Regions from separate parts of the Homo sapiens genome. Here region 2 is linked to region 1. The links come from fine-mapping of genetic effects on gene expression. A gene starts in region 1. The other region holds a variant in brackets. All regions are shown on one strand. Distances are from middle to middle. Region 1 holds the start of TGFBR2 (transforming growth factor beta receptor 2). Region 2 overlaps TGFBR2 (transforming growth factor beta receptor 2).

Region 1 (10,899 bases):
AACCAAAACATAAAACCCAATGAAAAAAGAAACTTAAAAAATAAATTTAGATTTTAGCACTTCATTCGTAATAAAATTCTCTTTCCGACACCCTTCTATGAAAAAAAAAAAAAAGAGGAATCAGTATCTACTGGATAATTCCTCTGGTGACTTTATTTAAAATTTTGCAGTGGCTTTCAAGGCCCTACACTGATTCAAAATTTATGGCTAAAGGAATTGCATGAAAACTTCTAGCAGCTTTCCATCATGTTTGTCAGAAGTTGAAACATCTTTTTCCATATTTCATGAGAATACAAGAACCAATTCCATACTTCAAAAACAGTCAAATTACTTATTGTGATCAGAACTAAAACTATTCTAACTGAAAGTAAAGATTTTACTATTTGGACCAAACACCTAACAAACAGTGACTGCTTAGTTAAATGCTCGACCTCAGTTGCATTAGATACAGTAGGATGAAGTGGAGGCTCAGCTCAGCACTTCCTGGGTGCTAAATGATGTGTCAGGCACTGCCAGAGATCCCAGAGATAGAAAACTGAATAAGATTGAGAGGATTAAAGGTATAATGGGCAAGAGAGTTACGTAAAGATATGACTTTGGCTTGGTATTGTTACCAGCTAAGTGAGAGGTCTGTATCTCATAGGAGACATTTACCTCAAACTGGGACATTCAAAGCAGGTTTCCTCAAGAAGATGACACTTGAACTACGTCTTAAAAGATGAGTGAAAATTAGCCAGGTAGCAGGAGTTCCAGACATCCTGAACAAAGGAACAGCTGCCTAAATTGCTCACATTGTGTGTATGTGTAGTGACACAAATAGACTGGGAAAATGTGGGCTGTGGTGGGATGTGAAGCAGCAGAGTCAAATGGGAACCAGGTCAGAGGCCCCTGGTAAGCCCAATTAAGGAGTTAATAGTAATAACAGAAGCTGATATTTATTGAGCATTTACTATGTTGCAGGCACCATGTTAAATACTTTAAAACAATATTTTATTTAATCCTCACCATAACTCCATAATCCTCATTTTACAAATGAGACCAGGGATGACTAGTAGGTAAAGCAACTACAACAGGCTACACAGCCAGTACATGGCAAGTGGGTCTGGAACCCAGGACGGCCTGATTCCAAAGTTTATACCCTACACTCTTCTACCACCAGCCTATCCTCAAAGAGAGCACTAAATGAACGCATTGGGTCCATCATGCTGGCTATGGAATGGAGAATGCAATTAAAGGCTGCCCAACTGGGGCTCCGTGACAAGGCAGGGATAGGAAAGAGACAACAAATTGATTCAAAAATACATTCAATGGGACCTAGAAGGAAACATTCAACATGCACATCCTCCTAGTGCATACAACAACAAAAAAAAATGAGGCTTTTGAAAATGAGGTGTAGAAAATAAAACACCAGTATTCCATAATGCTTTCAAATATAAACAGTTAAAACACGTATCCTTTTCTTTACTTATAACATGCTCCCAGCTGTTAAATTCAATGGCAAAGACCAGGTCTGTCTTATTCATCTGAGATGGTATCCCAGGTCTGAGCATCCTGCCTGGCAAGAGATACTCAATAAATATGGTTGAAAAGGTAGAAGAAAAAATGCCCAGTTTTTGCAATGATATCAGAGGTGCCTTATTGATCCAGAGTTAAAAACTAACCTTACTGAAAAAATTAAAAAGTCATGTTCATAACTGAGTAGAAAACATGTAGTAGTTATGTTGACTACATAGACAACAGTCATCATTAGGGAATGCTACATTGAAAAGAAGGCAATGAGTTCAAAATGTGATTAGTATTTTGTATAAATCATAACTCATTAAAAATAAGATGTTGAGTGGCCTAAAGGTGGAAATGTGTTTTTATGAGGCGGAAAAAAAGCACGAGTAGACTGAAGATCAGATTTGGGGCCTAATGATGTCTAGTCTCTTACCCTGACAAAATAAGCAGGTTATTAAAGTGATGTGAAGAACCTGATCACTATGACACTTTTACAAATTCTTTGTCCTCAATAAGAATCTATCTACTTCCAGGAACCTGAAAAGTCATATTTTTCAGACCTGAAGAGTTATTGTGCACTTTACAGTTTTCCCCAAAAGAGTCATTTCTTAATTTTGATCATTTAGGAAGAGTGAATCTATTAAGTCAAAAACGAAGAAAAAAAAACTTTCTATTTCTTAGTGAAATTTGTTCTTTTATTTAAATCCTTTGCATACTACTAAACAGAAGTACAGAAGCTACTAAACAGAAGACAGATTTTTGGGCCTTTTTAGGTGACGTAAAAGGAGCTTGTTGTTTATTAAACAATCTCATTACCTGATATATTATCTTGCATTAAGATATTTTGAAAAAATGTTTTCAGTTTACCAATTACGTTAGAGAAATTCTGAAACTATTTACTTACATGAAAAATTAAAATGTAAGTAGAATTAGGTTTCTCGTCTTCAATATATCTGTCTTCAACCATTGGCCAACTTTGAAAATTTAATTTGAATCAAATGAATACAAATTCAAAATGATTCATTAATTCAACCATTTTGAAACTTCAGTTCTATAAAAATATGAAATCTGTGGGCCTTGTAAAACTGTCTAAATACCCAAATAAAAAGCCACCACGTTTTTAAGCTAATTGTTTAAAAGTGTGTATATTGATGAAATGAAAGTGACTCGTGAACTATTGGGTCTGGAATTTGCAAATCATAAACCTTATCCTTGTAAACAGAACCTAACTAACAACATCAGGGCCTGCTAATTTCCTTCTTTTATAATCTGGAACAAAAGTTGTAATGATTTTTAACATCCACAGAAAATTAAGGGTGCCATTTTAAATATTTATTAGCAAAATGTCACTTAGGTTTTAAAAGTCTGGAGGAAAATGAGAGACAATTGAACATTCTGGTACTGCAATGCAGGAAAAACGCCAAGAACGAAACACTAAGATTTTATTAAAACCATAGGACTCAAATGTGTGTCAAGACTTTTTGCTTGCAATAGTGCCTCTTCCTAATTTGATTAAAAGCTTCCATCTCCATGCCACCTTCAATGTATGCCATAATTTTTAAAAAGTTCCCAATCCACTTCAAACACTCTAAAATTTACAACTGACCGTGATGCGCATTTTTTCTAGACAAACCTAAAGGTAAATCTGCCCATGTCCCTGGATAAATAAAATGAGTGCCTCCGGGTGATGTGGACTGTCAACTCCTCTACATTTCATCCAAAGTCTACATGGGTCATCTCCAAGTCACCAGAAGAGCCAGGGGAAAGGAGGGGAGGGGCACGATACGTAAGATGTTAAACATGAAGATGATGTAAAATTACCCAGATTCAAGCTGGCCATTTTACAGATGAGGAAACTAAGGCCCAGAAAAAGCTCTATGACTTGCCCAAATACTCGGTTACCCAGACCACAGCTGCAGATACTGTTATTTGGATCATAGCTGCAAAAAGTCTAACTTTTGGCCGGGCGCGGTGGCTCACGCCTGTAATCCCAGCACTTTGGGAGGCCAAGGTGGGCGGATCACGAGGTCAAGAGATCGAGACCACCCTGGCCAATATGGTGAAACCCCGTCTCTACTAAAAATACAAAAATTAGCTGGGCGTGGTGGCACGCGCCTGTAATCCCAGCTACTCGGGAGGCTAAGGCAGGAGAATCGCTTGAACCCAGAGGCAAAGTTGCAGTGAGCCGAGATTGCGCCACTGCACTCCAGCCTGGTGACAGAGCGAGACTCCGTCTCCAAAAAAAAAAAATCTAACTTTTGAAGTCTCAGAGGTTTTACACTTTCCATAACAAATAGTTAAGAACCCCCATTCCTGCATGCATATATATATTAATATTATATATATTTATATATATAATTATATATATATTTATATATATATAATATATATATATATTTTTTTATTTTTATTTTTTCCTTAAAAACCTTCAGAGACAGCGATCAGGTGGGTAGCCTAGTTAGGATTTTAACCCTTCGGTTTCCAACAAACGATAATTGCATAGAACCATCAACTCCCTGAAGACAGGACTATCTTGTTCCAGGCAAAATCTACAGCCTCTAGCACCCAGTAGGCATTCAGTGAGGGATTCTCGGTTTCACCTGAGCATCTCCACTCCCTATCCATCCATGCCAAGGCGTCAGTGGAGCCAGCTAACTTTCTTTTGGAAATCGATTATTTTCTTGAAACTTGTTTCCAAAAACTCCGGGCCAAGAAGCCGGCCTGAGGGAAAGCGTGGCCGTCTCCAGGAGCTAAGGACTGAGGAGCTGGCCTTTTGAACGGGTGGCTCAGAAAGAGCTGGGTGGGCACGCGGCATCGCCATGGGCGGAGTGGCCCAGGTGCGCTGGCTGCTTTGGCAGCTCAGGCTGCCGCTCCGGGCCGCTGCTCCCCGGCCGCCTTCAGATAACCAACTTCTCAAACTTCCCTTTCCGGGGGTGGGGGCTCGCCTCGAACGCGGCCAACACAACGCCTTTCCTGCTCGCACAAAGGGGACCAAACGTGCCCCGCGCCCCTTGCAACTGAACTTTCCTTCTCTTTTTCAAGAAAAACTCACAATCCCTGCAGCTACGGGAGTCGGGCTGCGTGAGTGTCGCGGGGGAAACTTTCCTCGTTTCCGCCCGGGGGCCGGGTTGCCGGGCCCGACTGTCAAGCGCAGCGGAGAGGCGGGGACCCCAGGAAGACCCCCGGCGCCCCGCCGAGCCCGGGCTGGGGACCACTCACCCGACTTCTGAACGTGCGGTGGGATCGTGCTGGCGATACGCGTCCACAGGACGATGTGCAGCGGCCACAGGCCCCTGAGCAGCCCCCGACCCATGGCAGACCCCGCTGCTCGTCATAGACCGAGCCCCCAGCGCAGCGGACGGCGCCTTCCCGGACCCCTGGCTGCGCCTCCGCGCCGCGCCCTCTCCGGACCCCGCGCCGGGCCGGCAGCGCAGATGTGCGGGCCAGATGTGGCGCCCGCTCGCCAGCCAGGAGGGGGCCTGGAGGCCGGCGAGGCGCGGGGAGGCCCCCGGCGGCCGAGGGAAGCTGCACAGGAGTCCGGCTCCTGTCCCGAGCGGGTGCACGCGCGGGGGTGTCGTCGCTCCGTGCGCGCGAGTGACTCACTCAACTTCAACTCAGCGCTGCGGGGGAAACAGGAAACTCCTCGCCAACAGCTGGGCAGGACCTCTCTCCGCCCGAGAGCCTTCTCCCTCTCCTCGACGTCCAGCCCCTAGCTCTCTCGTAGCTGCCAATCATGTTTCCTAGACCAGCCCCTCCGAGAGCTTTGGCCGACTTTCAGCTGCCCCTCACCGCCCTCCCACACCACTCAGGAGTTCCTCGCTCCAAGTATTTACTCAAGAATGACTAAGTGCACACAGTTCACAAAGTAACAACAGAAAACGTCCACGTTTTCCCTAGTAGATCAGAACATCTGCCGCCTCCCCTCAGCTTTCTTCAGATTGCTCCTAGGTGCTTTAGAGATGCGTTTTCAAATTGCAAGTTGAGATCCAGGAGTGAATACTCCAATCTATTGAGTCGCGAGCACATTTCTTTCCCAAATAAAATAGTAACGGTAAATTCTACTTCATTAAATTTGTGCTTCAGTTGTGTCTATATGCATGTATGTATGTGCATACACTGTCAAGTTGTAAAATGTTTTTCTTTAGGTCGAAGTCTAGAGGTTTTTCTCAAGTTTTAATGTACATATTGATCACCTGGAAATCTTATTTAAAAATGCAGATTCTAATTCAGTAGGTCTAGGAGGCAGGCAGAGATTCTGCATTTCTAATGAGCACCTGGATAGAGCGTCCCATTTTGCACCGCCTCTTCCCGGGACTGAGTCAGTGAGTAATTGTAAATGATCACCTATCACGAAGTGATAGTGGTGGGAAATGTAATTTTCAGAATGTATAGAGTATAGCAGAAACTGTAAAATTAAAAGTGGGTTGGGAGTCACCTGAATGCTTGTGCTTTTATTCCCTTAATGCAGGTGAAGAAAGAGAATACTTACCCTCTCATGTGCAAACGGGGTAACATGGGAGCAGAACAGTATAAACTTTCAAATTTCCTTTCTTGCTAGGGCAACCAGATTTGCCCAAGACATTCCTGGTGTACATGTTTTGTAGTTTAAATATTAATAGAACCCCCTTTCTCTTTCAGATATGTCCTGATTGGATAATAAACTATGTGATCAACCTACTTCCCACTCTCAAAGATATGATTCTGTACAGCCCTCTGGTCAGTAGATCTTCTAGCAATTCATTTAATGAATTCCTTTACCTGAGAGGAAGATTGCAGAGGCAAGGGTTTGTGCCAGGGTCTCCAGGGAATAAAGGTAAATAGCCCTCCCCCAAACCCAACTCCCAAATCTTTCCTGTCATTCTAAGTGTTCATTTGCTTCATCCTGGAATTTTAACTCATGCTCCACCTAGCACCCAAGCTGCCTCTGGATGTTTTGCCACTTCCCAGTACTCATGTTGAAGATGCAGAAAGTGCAGTGAAATCAGGAGGGCTAGGCATCTTCTTTCCCACCAATTAATTGCCTTGCCAAAGCTGGAGTGACTTTGTCAATGGAGGAAGATTGAGTTCCAAATCTTCTCCCTATTCCCTCTTCTGCCACCAGCCCATGCCACTGCCATGGCTTGTGTAGGAGTCTCCCACGAGTCACCCTCAGCCACGGCCGTTCTGGGCTCTTTCACTCAGTTTCTCAAACGAGAGCTGAATTCAGCTTTTCAAAATACAAAACTAGTTATACCAACCCTCTGATTAAAATCATTTAATGGCTTCCCACTGCTCTTGAGATAAAGAGAAGATAAAAACCAGATCCTTGAACGTGTCTTCAAGCCTCCAACTCTCCCGTAAACTTTCATTTGGCTTCTCCTTGCTTACTGAAAGCCTTCTCCAAATTTCGTGAATATGCCTCTGTAATCCTCCTACCCTTTATGCTTAGAGCCTTCCCCAGTGTGGACTTCCTTCCTCTGACCTTTTTTTCTTCACCCAGCCAACTCCTGGTCTTCGTGGATTGAATCATAACTTCTTTGATGGGCAAGCTTTCCCTCACCTCCATGAGTAGATCTTGTATTACACGTTCTCTTGGCACCATATGCTTTTCTTTTAACAGCTGTAACTTTATAATTATTTGTGTCATTCTTTAATTTATATTTCTATCCTCCACTCAACTCCAAATTTCTTGAGGGCAGGTATTATGTATCTTTCCCTCCACTTACTATTGTGTCCCTAAGCATCAAACACATAATCGATGTTTAATAAATATTTGTTGGATGAATGAATGAATCAGGCAATAAAGATTTAGAAGAAAATTGTATTTGATTGTTCTAGTTGCTTCATAACTCTGGAGAAAACATTGTTACCGAATATTTGAGATATAAACAGACTACATTTTAGCCGAGAATGATGTCACCACTACTTCCTTTTCTTAAGAATGGAGAAGTATGTGGGTTTCTTTCTTCTTCTTTTTTTTTTCCTACATTTGCCCAAGTTCCTCCAGATAGCAAACATGTACTTTCTTTCTCCTGAAAACACAATGTGGCAAATAAATGTCCAATAGATTCCAAAAGCTTTGTTTTCCTTAATTATCACAAAGATGTTTTACATTGTTGGAGGCTAGATATTTAAATCTATGGTGGAATGTTTAACTGGTGGTCTTTGCCATGATACATCATTAATGTTGATTTTAATTTTGTTTGCCCTTAACATTTCTGATTTAATCTCCAGTCTCCTGTGAAATTGAGAAGAATCAGAATTCAGCATTGCCAAGTGCAAGCTAGCCTTTTGAAAATCATCATAATAAAAATAATAGATGTGTAAACTCATGCATATTGCAATTTGATAATTTTAAAAATTCATCAGGCTGAGTGCAGTGGTCCACACCTGTAATCCCAGCACTTTGGGAGGTCTAGATGGGAGGATTACTTGAGCCCAGGAGTTCGAGACCAGCCTAAGCAACATAGTGAGATTTCATCTTTACTAAAAAAAAAAAAAAAAAAAAAAAAGCCAGGCATGTTGGCATGTATCTATAGTGCCAACTACTCAGGAGGCTGAGGTGGGAGAATCACTTGAGCCCAGGAGACGAACGCTGCAGTGAGCCATGATTGTGCCACTGCACTTCAGCCTAGAAGACAGAATGAGACCCTGTCTCAAAAACAAAAAATAAATAAAAGAAAAAGAAAAAAAAATTGTCATGATGCCCTTCCTTTTGAAATTCTTGTTGAAAGGGATGTCTGATACCCTTAATCAAGACATCATTTTCACACATAGTTGTATATTTGGCTTAGTATAATATTTTGTGTATTCACATAAGCAGTTAATATATACATGTAAAAAACTGGGCCATTTGCAAATGGGAACAAAAAAATAATAGCCCGACTCAGGGTTTAAAAAACAAGGAAGGTAACGTTTAAGCCCTTAATGAGTTGAAAAACAATAAATATCAACTTGAACAGAAATTTTAAAAGCTGACAATCTATTTTACCAGCTTTTTAAACTCTGCACGCACACACAAACACACACAATTGAACTGAATCAAATTGTGGTTTATTTAAACGTTGGGTTTCTCAGTTGTGATGAGAGAAGAACTTCCTACTCCCCTGAGCTTTGTGACATGCAGCTGTTGAGGTTACTGTCAGCTAGAGCAGTTAACAGGGAGATTCCTCTCCTTATAAATTAACCAGCCTCATTCTCAGCTCTTATCTCTTGACCAATTTTCCTTTTATTGTGAAGCAAACCAATAAGCACTGAGACTGTAGTTAATTTGTGAGGGTCATCCACCCTTTGTGGGTCATCCATGATGCTACCTCCTCCAGGAAATATTTTGTGATGCTTCACCTACTGTGATCACTCCTTTCCCAGGGATAACCCAGGGAACATTTCGTTTATTTAGCCTTTTTTTAAAAAAAAATGTTTGCCCCATTCTAACATGGAGTACATTATTGTTATTTATTTGCTTTTTAGAATTCTACCCTAATGATTGTAAAGCCCTTAAAAGCACAAAATATTCCTTTTTCAATGTAGAACCACACTCCGTGCTCTACAGATAATCAGTATTCAGTGTGTGTTTCTTGTCTTCAATAGAGAGAAAAATAAGAATATCAGTTTTCCTAATCCATTCTCTTGTTTGCAGTTCTTCACAGATATTAATAGAACCTGCAATTATGCCACATGTTTACAGAAAGCATCAATAGTATGTTTTGAAAAAAATAACTTTTTGAAAATTACAAGGGTAATACGTGTTAATTATAGGTAGGAAATTTAGATTTTTTTTTTAAAGGCAGACTTTAAAAGGATTCTTAACCCTATTATCCAAAGATAATCCTTGTTAAATTTTGGAGCATGTCCTTGCAGTACTATTCTAATCTTCCCTTTACAAATGAAGAATTTGAGGATTAAAGAGATTAAGTATTTGACAAAGGTCACATAGCTAGTAAAAGACAGAGCCCAGATTTGAACTTAGTCCTGTCTAGTTCCAGACTTGTTCTACACTCTAGAACAAATTGATCAGGTGGTTGATCTTCGCCACCTGACCAGTGAAGGATTTCAGGAAATGCCACTCCAAAATATGCTGCTTTGGTATACTGATTATTTTCAGTTGAAGGCACTTAAAGACCAGCAAATGCAGGGAGGAGGAGAGACATGTGGAACAGATGTGGACCAACCTCCTGATTGAATCTAAGCCAGACCTCCATCAGCCAATCTCAAGCCTACCTCTAGCCAATCCATATGAGTCTGAGTAAGAATAAGTAAATGCCGTTTAAGGAAAAATTTGGGTTGGTTTGTTATCCAGAATTTTTGAGGCAATAGCTAAGAGATATAAGGGATGTGAAGGGTGAGGAATCACGGAAAAGCAAGGTTAAATAATTTGCAGGTGGTAAAACTACAAAGGGGTTCTTATAGACAAAAACTATCATGAGGTTTGTTATGGGGGCTGAAGATGAGGAAGACAGTAGGACTCCAATTTAGACTTTTAGGATCATCTACAAATTAAATTGTACATACAGTTAAAGAATATGGGCCGGGCATGCTGGCTTATGCCTGTAATTCCAGCACTTTGGGAGGCCGAGGCAGGCAGATCATGAGGTCAGGATTTCGAGACCAGCCTGACCAACATTGTGAAACCCTGTCTCTACTAAAAATACGAAAATTAGCTGAGCGTGGTGGCACACACCTGTAATCCCAGCTACTTGGGAGGCTAACGCAGGAGAATCGCTTGAACACGGGAGGTGGAGCTTGCAGTGAGCCAAGATCACGCCATTGCACTCTAGCCTGGGCGACAGAGCAAGACTCTGTCTCAAAAAAAAAAAAGAAAAAAAAATTTAAAAAGAAAATGACCAACACCATTCCTCCATTCCTTGTTTACTTAAAATCCACTCTCTCTCCCATCTTGCCATTAGTTCACTAATTTTGTTTAGGATTTGGATGCAGCTCCTCTTAAGGAAAAGGCCCATCCTTGTCTAAGGGTGGGTATGTAATCCAGGTCCGGTCAAAGCGCTGCAAGAAGAAATCTGATGGGGGCTTGTGGGAAATTTTTTTTCTACCTGATAAGAAAGAAGTGCCTAAGGAAAAGGACTCACCTGTTTCCTAGCTTTGAACATAATTGGAAGAGGATAAAACAGTTGGAAATACTCCAATCACCTTTCAACAATGAGAGGAAGGCCAAAAGTATCAGAGTAGAACCACTGAATCATTATCAGCAACTACCTCAATGTAGACATTATTTGAGTATGGTGGATAGTCTGTAAAGATGGCCACCATCGCCTCCTTTTTTCACTGTACTCACACATTATTCTGCATAATAATAGGTGGGATGGAGTCTATTTTCCCTCTCCTTGAATCTGCACTAGCTTTGTAACTTCCTTTCACCAGAATGTAGTGGGAGTGACATTGACCATTAGTGCCAATTCTGGG
Region 2 (10,899 bases), 25 kb before region 1:
CTTCTGTTACTTTTGAATTTTCTATTATTTTTCTGTACTTAAAAAATGTTTTCATTATAAATGAGCAAATGCAAGGCAGATTCTGTCATGGCAGATGCATGCAGCTTTCATTCAAGTGACAGCCCCACATAGCCTCTGGGCACCAGGATCAGAAGTGGAGAAACAATACCTAATAGGGAGACCACCATGTGGGCAGAAAATAAAGAGATAAGCTCAAAAGCATCAATTTTCCTTTTCATGCACATGTTTTTGTAATACTAATATAGTTTTTAAAACCTGTCAAGAATGACATAATCAATACTCTAAAATCTCTTAGAGCAGGAAATAATTCTAGTAAAATACCTAGTACGGGCCGGGTGCGGTGGCTCACGCCTGTAATCCCAGTACTATACACACACACACACACACACACACACACACACACACACACACACATACATATATATTTTCACACTGAAACTACCTACCATCTGGCCAACAATTAAGGATATCAAATGTCTGGGATACTCTCCACACAACAAGACATCTAAAACAAACACCAGGTTGGTCCCTACCCTCCTATGGCTTATATTCTAGTTTGAGAGGCAACATTAACAACGGCAACCTCATGTGAATCAGTTACTTGCCTTTAAATGCAAACATGAGGTCAGAAATGGAGACAGAGCTGATACGGGAAGTGTGTGTGTGAGTGTGTGTGTTTATGCATTTATGTGTGTGATTTCCTCATTTGGACTTGTTCAACTGAGGGAATTTAGCTTTGTAGGTTTGAGTTTCACTAGCATTTTGGCTCATGAATTTAGTAGTTTGCTATGATTGCTTTAAGAAAACTGCATAAACATAAATTTGTATTTACCAAACAAATTAAGGGATTAAGGAATGATTACTTGTGTCTCAAATGAATTCATCCAATGAGGTACTTTAAATTGAAATCTTGGCTGTACCTTTAAACTCAAATTTTTTTAAATGCAATTTACAAGGAAGTTTTTTTAGTCTTCTACGGAATGAAACAAGCTGTAGCTGAACGGAAAAATAATTGGCTTTCTCCAGTGACAAACATAAAATAACTGAGCTGGAATTTCAATTGCATCCTTTCCTATTTAACACTTACCAGCCCCAATGACCCCAAATAAATCCTAAAAATGCATACTTGGTTTTCTTGCTTTCTTGTATCATTGAAGAATGAAGTACAATTTGAGTCCCCCCAACGCTTGCTGAATTTTCATTTATTTTTCTGTTTTTTGTTTGTTTTTGTTTTTAGTGGCAGGGGACCTCTCTGAGATACAGGCCACATAACAGGAGACAAAATCTAAACATTTAAAATGACTCTTGCAGGTGGAAATATCTACACATTGTTGCCAAAGGCAGTATTTCAGAATTCTAGCACTTGTGCCATATTCAAAAAGCTGAAACAATTGTAACTTTCTCAATCATGCTCTTTCAGCTCTAATAGGACCCAGTGAATAAAACAAATTTCTGAAAGCTGGGGAGAAGCAAGCAGTTTATAGTAAATACTGTCATCAATACATGAAATTCTTAAGTTTTTCATTGATAAAGCTCACTTTAACAGTGCCTTTATCTGGCAAAGACTGACTGCAGGGACTATGAGATGAGTCAAAAACCAGAATGTAGGGTTTGGGGCTGAGAAGAACAGGAAGCCAGTTAAAAAAGTTAAGCCATATAAATGCAAATGGTATATTAGATCAAGTGAAAGAGTAGAATGGAGCACTATTTCATGAACTCTCAAAATAATAACTTTATGCCTCTGCTGAGAAGTGCTTTAAAGTTGGTACTTTACCTAAAGTGACAGCAACTGAGAAAACAATTCTCCCTCAGTTGACAGGACTTGGAGTGCTGTAGCAACAAGGAAATAATTTATTATTGAAAATAAAAGATGATTAAATAACTCTCTTGGTGATGGTCAAAACATTGGTAAATGGCACAGACTGATAGAGGCAAGATAATGATACACGACTGACGGAGTTTTACAACATTCCAATTCAACTAAAGTAATTTGTTACTTACCAGCAAAATTAGTCAACCTAAACGAAAATGTGCTGCTTTCTGACAGCCCTCATATTTAAACCCTTGAGGGAAGGGGGACAGGATAAGACATGGTCCTTTCCTCAAGATCTTTAAGTTCTTCTAGGGAATTTTTAAAAATGCACGAAATGATTTTCATCAAAAGAGCTTTGGAAATAAGGATGGTCTAAATGAAGATGTGCTTTTTAATTAAGTTATTCATTTAGGATTTAAACAATTCTTTATCTCAAAGTACTGAGGCAGCTTAATGGAAAATGCAGAAACTAACACAAAATCTGGTAAGAACAGATTTTTAAAAGATAGTGACTATTAGAGAATCTGAAAAATCAGCCCCTGAAATGAACCATTTGCCTCAACTAAGCATGGGATTTGGTCCGAATATCAATGTTCTGTGAGAGCAGAATTTTCACTGATAAATTTCTCCGTGGAGGCTTTTGCTTCAGTTTTTCAAAATATGCTGCGGGGTTCTTGTGCATGCCTGGTACCTGAAAGGTTTTTCAATTACAGTTTTATTAAACATGTGAAAATATTGGTCAAAACAGATGATTTCCATATTTTCTCTGGAAAAGGGCCAGAGTACTACCATATTTGGGAAAGGCATCCCTTTAAAAAGTAATATAACGAGGTCCAAGGCGCTTGGTTTCTAACAACCAAATAACTTGGGCACAGACTGAGAAGCTAAAGCAGAAATTGCTACAGTGGGTACAAGAGCTGGACACAGAGCACAGATGTGTTCTGTTTGGCCTGAACTCTTTTCTTTTTAAAATATAAACCAAGTTTTAAAATTCAGAGATTTCACATGCAAAACTGGTTTTCTAATTCCACTTAAAGAAATAAAAAAGACTTGGAAACAGTGGGCCCACACCATCCCAAGACAACAGTCAGCTGACTGTGAGCTGAGATGCTCCTCTTGAGAAAGTCTCTGTGTCCTCAAATTTGCCTCCTCCCTGACACTCCTTCATGTCACCTACTCCCCTGCCAGGCCCCTGTGGCCACCTGAATGTTTACAATTAATGATTATTTCACCTGCACATTCAATTCTCTCTTCTAATATTAGGGTTTAACTAGAATGCAAAAAGTCATGATTTAACTCTCTAATATGAATATTTTTAACATGCATGTAATTCTCTAATGTGTATAATCACATTTCAGTTCAAGGCCAGAGGACATCTACTTTAGAAATCAGATCTATGTGATGTTAATAATTATTATTACCATGATCATGATTTATCGAATGCAGACCAAATGCTTAGTCCAGTATTAAGTACTGTGATGATTATTTCATTTACTTATCACAACCACCATGCAATTTTGTCATTAACATTTTATAGATGGAGAAATTAAGGGTCAAAGAGATGAAATAACTTATCATATCATATCAATGAGAGAAAGCAAATAAAAGACAAAGCCAATGGTGACACACAAGCCCTCATCCTTCCTGATACTCCACAATGAAATAGATATTCCATCAAAAAGTTTAAGAGTAGAACTTTACACACATTCCAGTACAAGGCAAAGACACAGGTGTGACTACTAGGAGTTGAAGAAAGTATACAAGGGGTGGGGAAGCAATAAGTTTCTTAGACAAAAGCTTTGGTTCTTTGTAATTACTTCACTTATTTTAGGAGACATATATAATAAGGTCAGCTTGGTGAAGCCCAAGAGTTTTAAGGTAAAAACTTGAGTGTGAATTCAGGCTCTTACATGTATTAGCTGTGGGCCACTTAACTTCTTGAAACCTCCATTTCCTGATTTATGAAATCGTCCCATGTAGGATCATGATGAAGAGCAAACATGCTTGAAGTACCTGTGAAAATCCTCTAGACAGTAAAAAATGCCACACAAGCATTCACTTGCTAGAAAGGTAACATTCCATGCAATGCTCTCTCACACCAAAGAAAATTGCAGGAAACAAATGACAAGATAAGTATGAGTTTGGTAAATCTATTCCTACTCATCAATAGAATGTAGCAGTTTGATGACTTCTAAAAAACCTTTCAGGAAATTTGAATGAATAGACAAATTGAAATATAATAATTTTTTGTTACCACTGTGCCCTGATGCTTTCAAATATACAATGGAATCAATCATCGTTACAATAAAGTTGCCAAGAGTGTTTAGGATCTAGAACCAAATAATCTGGTTTTGAAATATTGTTCATAACCAGCATAGGTCTGGCAAACAGGCAGTAACTTGAGAATCCAGTTCAATTTTCAAATCCTCTGCTTACTCCTGCACATTTATCAGGCGAGAGCTGATCTACTTTGGCTTTGAGACACTTAGTGTGTTATTTCGCAACATGCTAATAAAATTAGTAAGTTTGACATGCAGAGATGGGAAGGCAATGATGTGTCTTAAGATTGTGGAATTCTAAAATATTGAAATAAAATCATGTTTGGCTTACTTTTCAAGGAAATAAAACTGCTGTACTTTCATTCACAGCTGATGAAAGAATTACAGAAGAATATGGGCAACAACAATTGTAGTAGATTTTTAAGTACCTAGTTAAAAAGTGTTCTGGGCCATCCAGATATATGGAAAGCAATATTCCTTAATCTTCTCTCCTGGAGCTCATTTGCTCACGTAAAAGTTAATTATAAAACATTGCTATATGACTTCTACTGGAGGAGAATTCACCATGCTGGGAATGGCAGCAGGTTGCAGTGGAGAAGGCTCTGAATCGACCATGAGGGGGCTTTGAGTTCAAGGGCAATTACCCAACCACTCTCTGTGCCTGTTCTCCAACCAGTCAAACAAATGGGTTGGACATGATGAACTTAAAGGTCCCTTTCATTTTGAAAAATGACACAAAAAGGACAGAAAGACACATTCAGATTCACTTTGGTTTCTAAGATAACACCAAACACTTTGAAACTTCCCCCTTCATGTTTTTCAAGCAGAGGAAGTAAAAAAAAAAAAAAAAAAAAAAGAAAGAAGTTGCAAGTATTGTTAAGGCTTCTAGAAAGGACAACAAAGGGCAGGAAATTTGAAACAAAATCTGAGAATCTGCCCTTAAACTGGGCAATTTTGCTTGTTTTCTCACAGTGCAGTTAGATGAAAAAGTGTAAGGTTGATCTTCGCCTTTCCTGGGCATTACTCATTGCTGTCATGACCTTGATGCAATTTGCAGTAAACATCATAAAGGTCTCTCTTGTGGTGAGTAGCTGCAACTTTTCTGATGCTACCTCCTGTGATTAAAATATCTACTCCCGGCCTGGCACGGTGGCTCACGCCTGTAATCCCAGCACTCTGGTAGGCCGAGGTGGGTGAATCACGAGGTCAAGAAATCAAGACCATCCTGGCCAATATGGCGAAACCCCGTCTCTACTAAAAATACAAAAATTAGCTAGGGCTTGATGGTGCGTGCCTGTAGTCCCAGCTACTCAGGAGGCTGAGGCAGGAGAATCACTTGAACCCAGGAGACAGAGGTTGCAGATGGCCAAGACTGTGCCACTACATTCCAGCCTTACGACAGAGCAAGACTCTGTATTTAAAAAAAAAAAAAAAAAAAAAAGGCTACTCCTTTCCAAGTCCTAGCAAT[C/T]CCACTAAGGTTGGTAACTTAGTCTGTTTGGCTGCCATACAAAATATGTGAGACTGGGTGATTTATAAAGGACAGAAATTTTTCACAGTTCTAGAGGCTGACAAGTCCAAAATCAAGGCACTGGCAGTTCTGATGTCTCGTAAGAGCCCCCTTTCCTGCTTCCAAGATGGTGCTTTGTTGCTGTGTCCTCTAGAGAGGACCAGTACTGTGTCATCACATAGCAGAAAATGGAAGGGCAAAAGGATCCAGGCTGGTTACCTCCAGCCCTTTTATGTGGGACTAATCCACTCATGACTTAATCACTTCCCCCAAATCTCCGTCTCTTGATACCACCACAATGGGGATTAAGTTTCAACATAAATTTTGGAGGGGAGACATCAGCCACAGTAGTTGGTGAGAAAAAAGGACAGTATTTACATAATGACAGTTGTCAATGGGCTGTGGAAAAGTCAAGATAGATTCCAGCAGTGATTTTAAGATGGAAAATGAGAACCATGCACACAGTCTTCAAGGTGCAATCTTCCAACATAGTTCTGGAACACAGCTGGCTCCTTCCATCCATGGGGAATGACCACATTTGTGTGCTGAAATAACATTTAGTACTAGAGATAAAACTGGAATAAGTGATCTAAACTTTGAAATGTTTTGAATGACCTTTGGCTACAAAGTCAAATTATAATGCTTTCTATTTCTTAAGACAACTCTTTATGGAAGTTCTAGTATGTACCTAACTTTGGCACCTTAGATTTGCCCCACACTGAATCTTATCTATTAAACCTATCTCATTCTGGGGTGAGAACCCAGATGTGTAAAATCGTATGGCCAGAGGTGACTGAGAAGTGCATTTTGACTATGTTTCATAGTCTTTTATCCATCTTAGCATAATCTTTTTACCAGCACCAGTGGAGTTGTGAACTCGCTCAATTTCTTGTGATGTCCAGTGTAAAAATGTATGCCTATAAATGTAACTCTTAGAAAGAGAAGCAAAAATGAGAAACCATGGGGGAGGAGGGGAGGAAATGACAAGCACAGTCTGTTTTTAGGACACTGTACTTGCTGTTCCCTCCAACTAGAATGCGCTTAACCCAGAGATCTGCCTTCTTCATCCCGATTTCATACCAATTACTGCTCAAATATCACATTATCAAAGATGCCATTCTTGACAACCGCTTCTAAAATTACAAGCATCTACCATTGTTCTCAGACCCTCGCGCTGTACTTATCTGCTGACATGTTGATAGAATCTTGTTTATTAGCTTGTACACATGGACTTTAATTCACTCTGTATTCCCCAAATCTCAAACATTGGCTGGCACACGGTGGTTGGTACTCTATAAACACTTGGTGATGGCTTTCCTATCCCTAAGTCCTCCAAAGCCAAGTTTCATACCTCTTCCTTAAGTTCCAAAGGAAACCTTATCTGCAGAAAATTAATGCATATTTGCTGTTGCTGGATAAAGAATAAGGATATAGTCACAGAGAAAAAAGGACATGTTGAGGCCAGGTATGGAGGGTATAAACAGTTGGTGAAGAGTTTTAAGCTCAAGGCCTAGCCTGTCTAACTTAGCAATAAAAGGAAGTCAGTTCTGAAGTCAAAGAGAGTTCTTCTTTCCCCACTGGGAGGAGCTGGTTCATGAAAGTGGAGGGCCAGAGCCAAGAGAACTCTCCCAAGACACATTGTTCAAAAGTCAAGGGCATAATCTAGATAGAGCTACACAGTAGCCATGAGGACACATGGATTTATAAATTTAAATTAACTAAAGTTAAATGAAATCATACATTCAGTTCCAAGTCAGACCAGCCATTTTCAAGTGCTTAATAGCCACATGTGGCCAGGAATAGACAGGATACTTTCATCATTGCAGAAAGTCCTATAGGACAACACTGATCTAAAGAAATTCAAAAGGACCTGCGTTCCTCGGCTTCTGAGGAGATCTGAAAACGAAGGCCCAGAGGGAAATGGAAGGAGAAGCAGGGCAGAGCTTGAAAAGTAATCGCATTGGAAAGGGCCCTGACTGCTGGCTTGGATGCCTTGTGTAATTAAAGTTCTATCCCAACTTCTTAAGGAATGAGTCTCGTATTAAATGACTGGCTGTCTGTAGTGTCACTGCTGAGGTAGGGAGAGAAGACAATTAGGGACAAGGAGTAGTGTTCCATGGAAAACACGTTAGCTATGAGTGGCAGCAGCAAAAGGTCTCAGAAGTGAGAGAAATGGACCCAACTAGGTTTGCAACAAGCTGAAACCTGTAAAGGCTCATGTCAGCTGGCACAACCTCTCAAAATGCAAATCCCTGAGCCCAAGATAAATGTAAGGCTCGTCTGACTCCTAAGGTATCAAGTAATTCTTATTAAGCCCCATTTCAATGACTGAAACCTAATGCAGAGCCCAGGCACACAGATTAAGTTTCCAGTCAAAGCCCACACAAGCCTAAAGAAAGGAAATTAACATTTTAGAGAAAAAAAAAAAAAAAAAAAAAAAAACCCACAGGCTTTTTCAAAGGCTTTTTTTTTTTTTTGGAGGATTTAAGTCACAGCATGCCAAATAAAGGTGAGTTTCTAGGAGAATACAGCACAGAGGTGACCAAGGTGGGTGAAATTTATTCACAGGGGAAAATCCAAATGCCTTCAGGGAAACCACTTTTGCAGGGTTCTTCTGATAAATACTGAACCCAATTAAAAGCATCCCTTCAGGGCAAGTTTTCTCCTAGGAGATTTCTATTGGCCGCTTTAACTTCCCTTTCCCCAGAATTTCCAGGAGAAGTTTGTAACGGTTTATAATCCCTACCACTCCATGCTCATAGACTTTAAGCATATTTTTCTCCCACAAGGCAGTACTATTTTTATAATCCTTTTAAGATTAAAACTAAAAACACAGATGATTAAAAAAAAAAAAAAAAGGCCTGGCTGCATCCTCCTACAATAAAGTATTATAATTGCAGTGCACTACTAAGTAGTATTTCCACAAACATTAGACTATCTGGTTTCCAGGACAAAGAAACAGCCTATAATTCCAAAGCACAGGAATGGAAAAGTACAAGTAATTTAATCTGTCCCACTGTGATTATAGGTGCTAAGAAATTACCTGAACGGACCTCTTTGGGACTTGAGAAGAATGGGGACTTTAATGATGCTCCATAACTGCCCTATTCATTATGATACCCAAGAGCCACCTGTGGCTATTTAAATTCAAGTTAACTGAAATAAAAATATATCTATATTTGAAATTCAGTTCCTTATTTGCACCTGCTACGTTTCAAGCCACATGTATCATCTAAGATGGTCTCAGACCCACTGTTCAATAGAACTTCCTGCAAAGGTGAAAATATCTTATACCAGTGCTGTCCTTAAACCTTAACACAGCCCAGGTATAAGATATTTTCATCTCTGCAGAAAGTTCTATTGAACAGTGGATCTAAGACCATCTTAGAGAGATAATTACATAATTTTTCCCAATTTCATAATAGAGATTATGAAGTAACAGCCTCCAAAATACAGGGTTTTTAGGCTACTGGCTACCTTCTACACTCAGGTGAACTTTTTGTAGTGGTTTACACATGTGTACCAATTGCCCTCATCTCCCCAGTTTCAAGTACATTAAAATGGCATTAGATGTAATAAAATACATGCCACTGAGACTCAGCTCAATTGAAACTTGAGTTTCTTCAGAATTCCAAACGATGGTGCATCTCTTTCTGAAACCTGAAGTGGGGACTTGTCAGGAAAATGTCTATGAGGGAGGCCTAGGAAAAAGAAGGCATTTTCCAAAATTAATAAATTTATTTCCTTGTTTTTTGTCACACCTTATTCCAGAGGTGTCTCTAGGCTACTGTGTGCGGAACGAGGTCTGGACAGAACCTAATGATAAATTGGGGGATACTGAAAGTCCTGGCACTCTAAGGAGCTTCCCCACACATCTTTAGATTTTTATTTCCCATGTGGGAAAAAAAGAAAGGGATTTCCTATCTTCCCATCACAAACTCCTGGCTTTGCAGTGGTTTTATTACGTCATTCCCCTACTTACAATCTGCCAGTGACTCAGAGAATTTAGCCCAAACTGGCACTTAAGGCTCCCATAATCTGATTACCTTTCTGCTGAATAACTCCTTTTATCAGAAACCCTTTGACCTGATAATTGCTGGCTTTCCTACCACCAAAATTTCTACCTCCCTACCAGATCTATCAGGTGGATTTTAAGGTCAAGAAGAGCATGCCCAAGGCAGCCTGCTCAGCCCCTGGAAGGAGTTCAGTGCCTTCACTGTTGGCTGTGAGGTTTACGTGATGGAGGGAAGAGACTCCAAGAATGGTGTCTGAAAGGATGCCTGGTGTCTGATGCTGCCCCTCAGGAGTGGTCCAAGGTGGTTCAAATACTGCCTGCTTTGGCCATGGCTGACAGAGCTGAAGAACTGCCTCTATATGGTGTGTGGACACACACCCCAGGCAGCCACTTGCCGGCTTCCCTCTGTTTCCTTGAAGGAAGTGGAGTAGCATGGCCCTGGGGCTAACAAGTGAACAATAGTGCCTGCCTTAAATCATACCCAGCCTTTCAGACCCAGGTCAAGTGTTTTCTCTTTTGGAAAATCATCCATTCCCCCCACTACCAGCCCCACCAAGAGTACTCTGCCTCCTCCGGTTTTGGTTTTTAACCATCTTTACTGTGAGGTATGCTTTTAGATAGGCCTGTATTTGCTCTGTTCTGCAGATGAGTTTCCAAAACCTTCTAAAACCTTGCTCATATTTGTTATGCTGGATTTAAAGTCAACAGATGGGAGTTTTCAACCCAGTAAATGGAATTTCTTTGCTGTGGGAAATCAAGTACTTTGACCTCTCTGGTGAAATTCTTCATTTGTAACCTCACTGGGTTAGGCTAGATTAGTGTTTCTCAACATGGTTCCACATCGGAATCATCTGGGGATCTTTTAAAACAATAATGATGCCAAAGTCCTACCCCAGGGCAATGAGTCAGAACTTCTAGGTGCTTGGCTCAGGCTTTGGAATTCTTTTAGAAGTTCGCAGGTGATCCTAACGTGCAGCCAGGGTTAGAAAAATAAACTGAGTTCAGGAAGGGACTTATGCTACATGGACTGGAGAATTCAATAGGAAAAAATGTAGTAGTTAGAGATGGGGCATGGTAGTACTGGACAGAGGCAGTCAGGCCCATAGGTGTTGCTTCTCATCTTTGCCTTGAGCTGTAACTAGAAAAACTGCAAACTGCATTATAACCAGAACATTATTATATACATATACATGTACAATCAAGCCCAACCCAATTAATTTTCTCATATGACTCAAACTCTAGTACCATTTGGAGATGAGGCAGG

Evidence for each region. PIP is the estimated chance that this variant, and not a neighbour inherited with it, causes the effect.
Region 2: its variant is fine-mapped to the expression of TGFBR2 in whole blood (TOPMed, PIP above 0.99).

What each region holds. Positions count from the first base shown.
Region 1 is chr3:30,600,798-30,611,696 of GRCh38, reverse strand. It overlaps TGFBR2 (transforming growth factor beta receptor 2), which reads right to left and starts at 5,096. Exons shown (of 7, transcript NM_003242.6): 1 at 4,720-5,096. The coding sequence starts at 4,813. LOC105377015 (translation initiation factor IF-2-like) reads left to right here and starts at 4,773. Exons shown (of 2, transcript XM_047449400.1): 1 at 4,773-5,551; 2 at 6,139-7,298. The coding sequence starts at 4,773. The coding sequence ends at 5,213. RefSeq lists a silencer at 4,923-5,022.
Region 2 is chr3:30,625,692-30,636,590 of GRCh38, reverse strand. All of the region lies in intron 1 of TGFBR2 (transforming growth factor beta receptor 2), which reads right to left. It also overlaps the pseudogene KLHL25P1. Among named protein-coding and RNA genes, the nearest start is that of TGFBR2, 25 kb to the right of the region's middle. The variant C/T (reference allele first, on the strand shown) is at 5,582.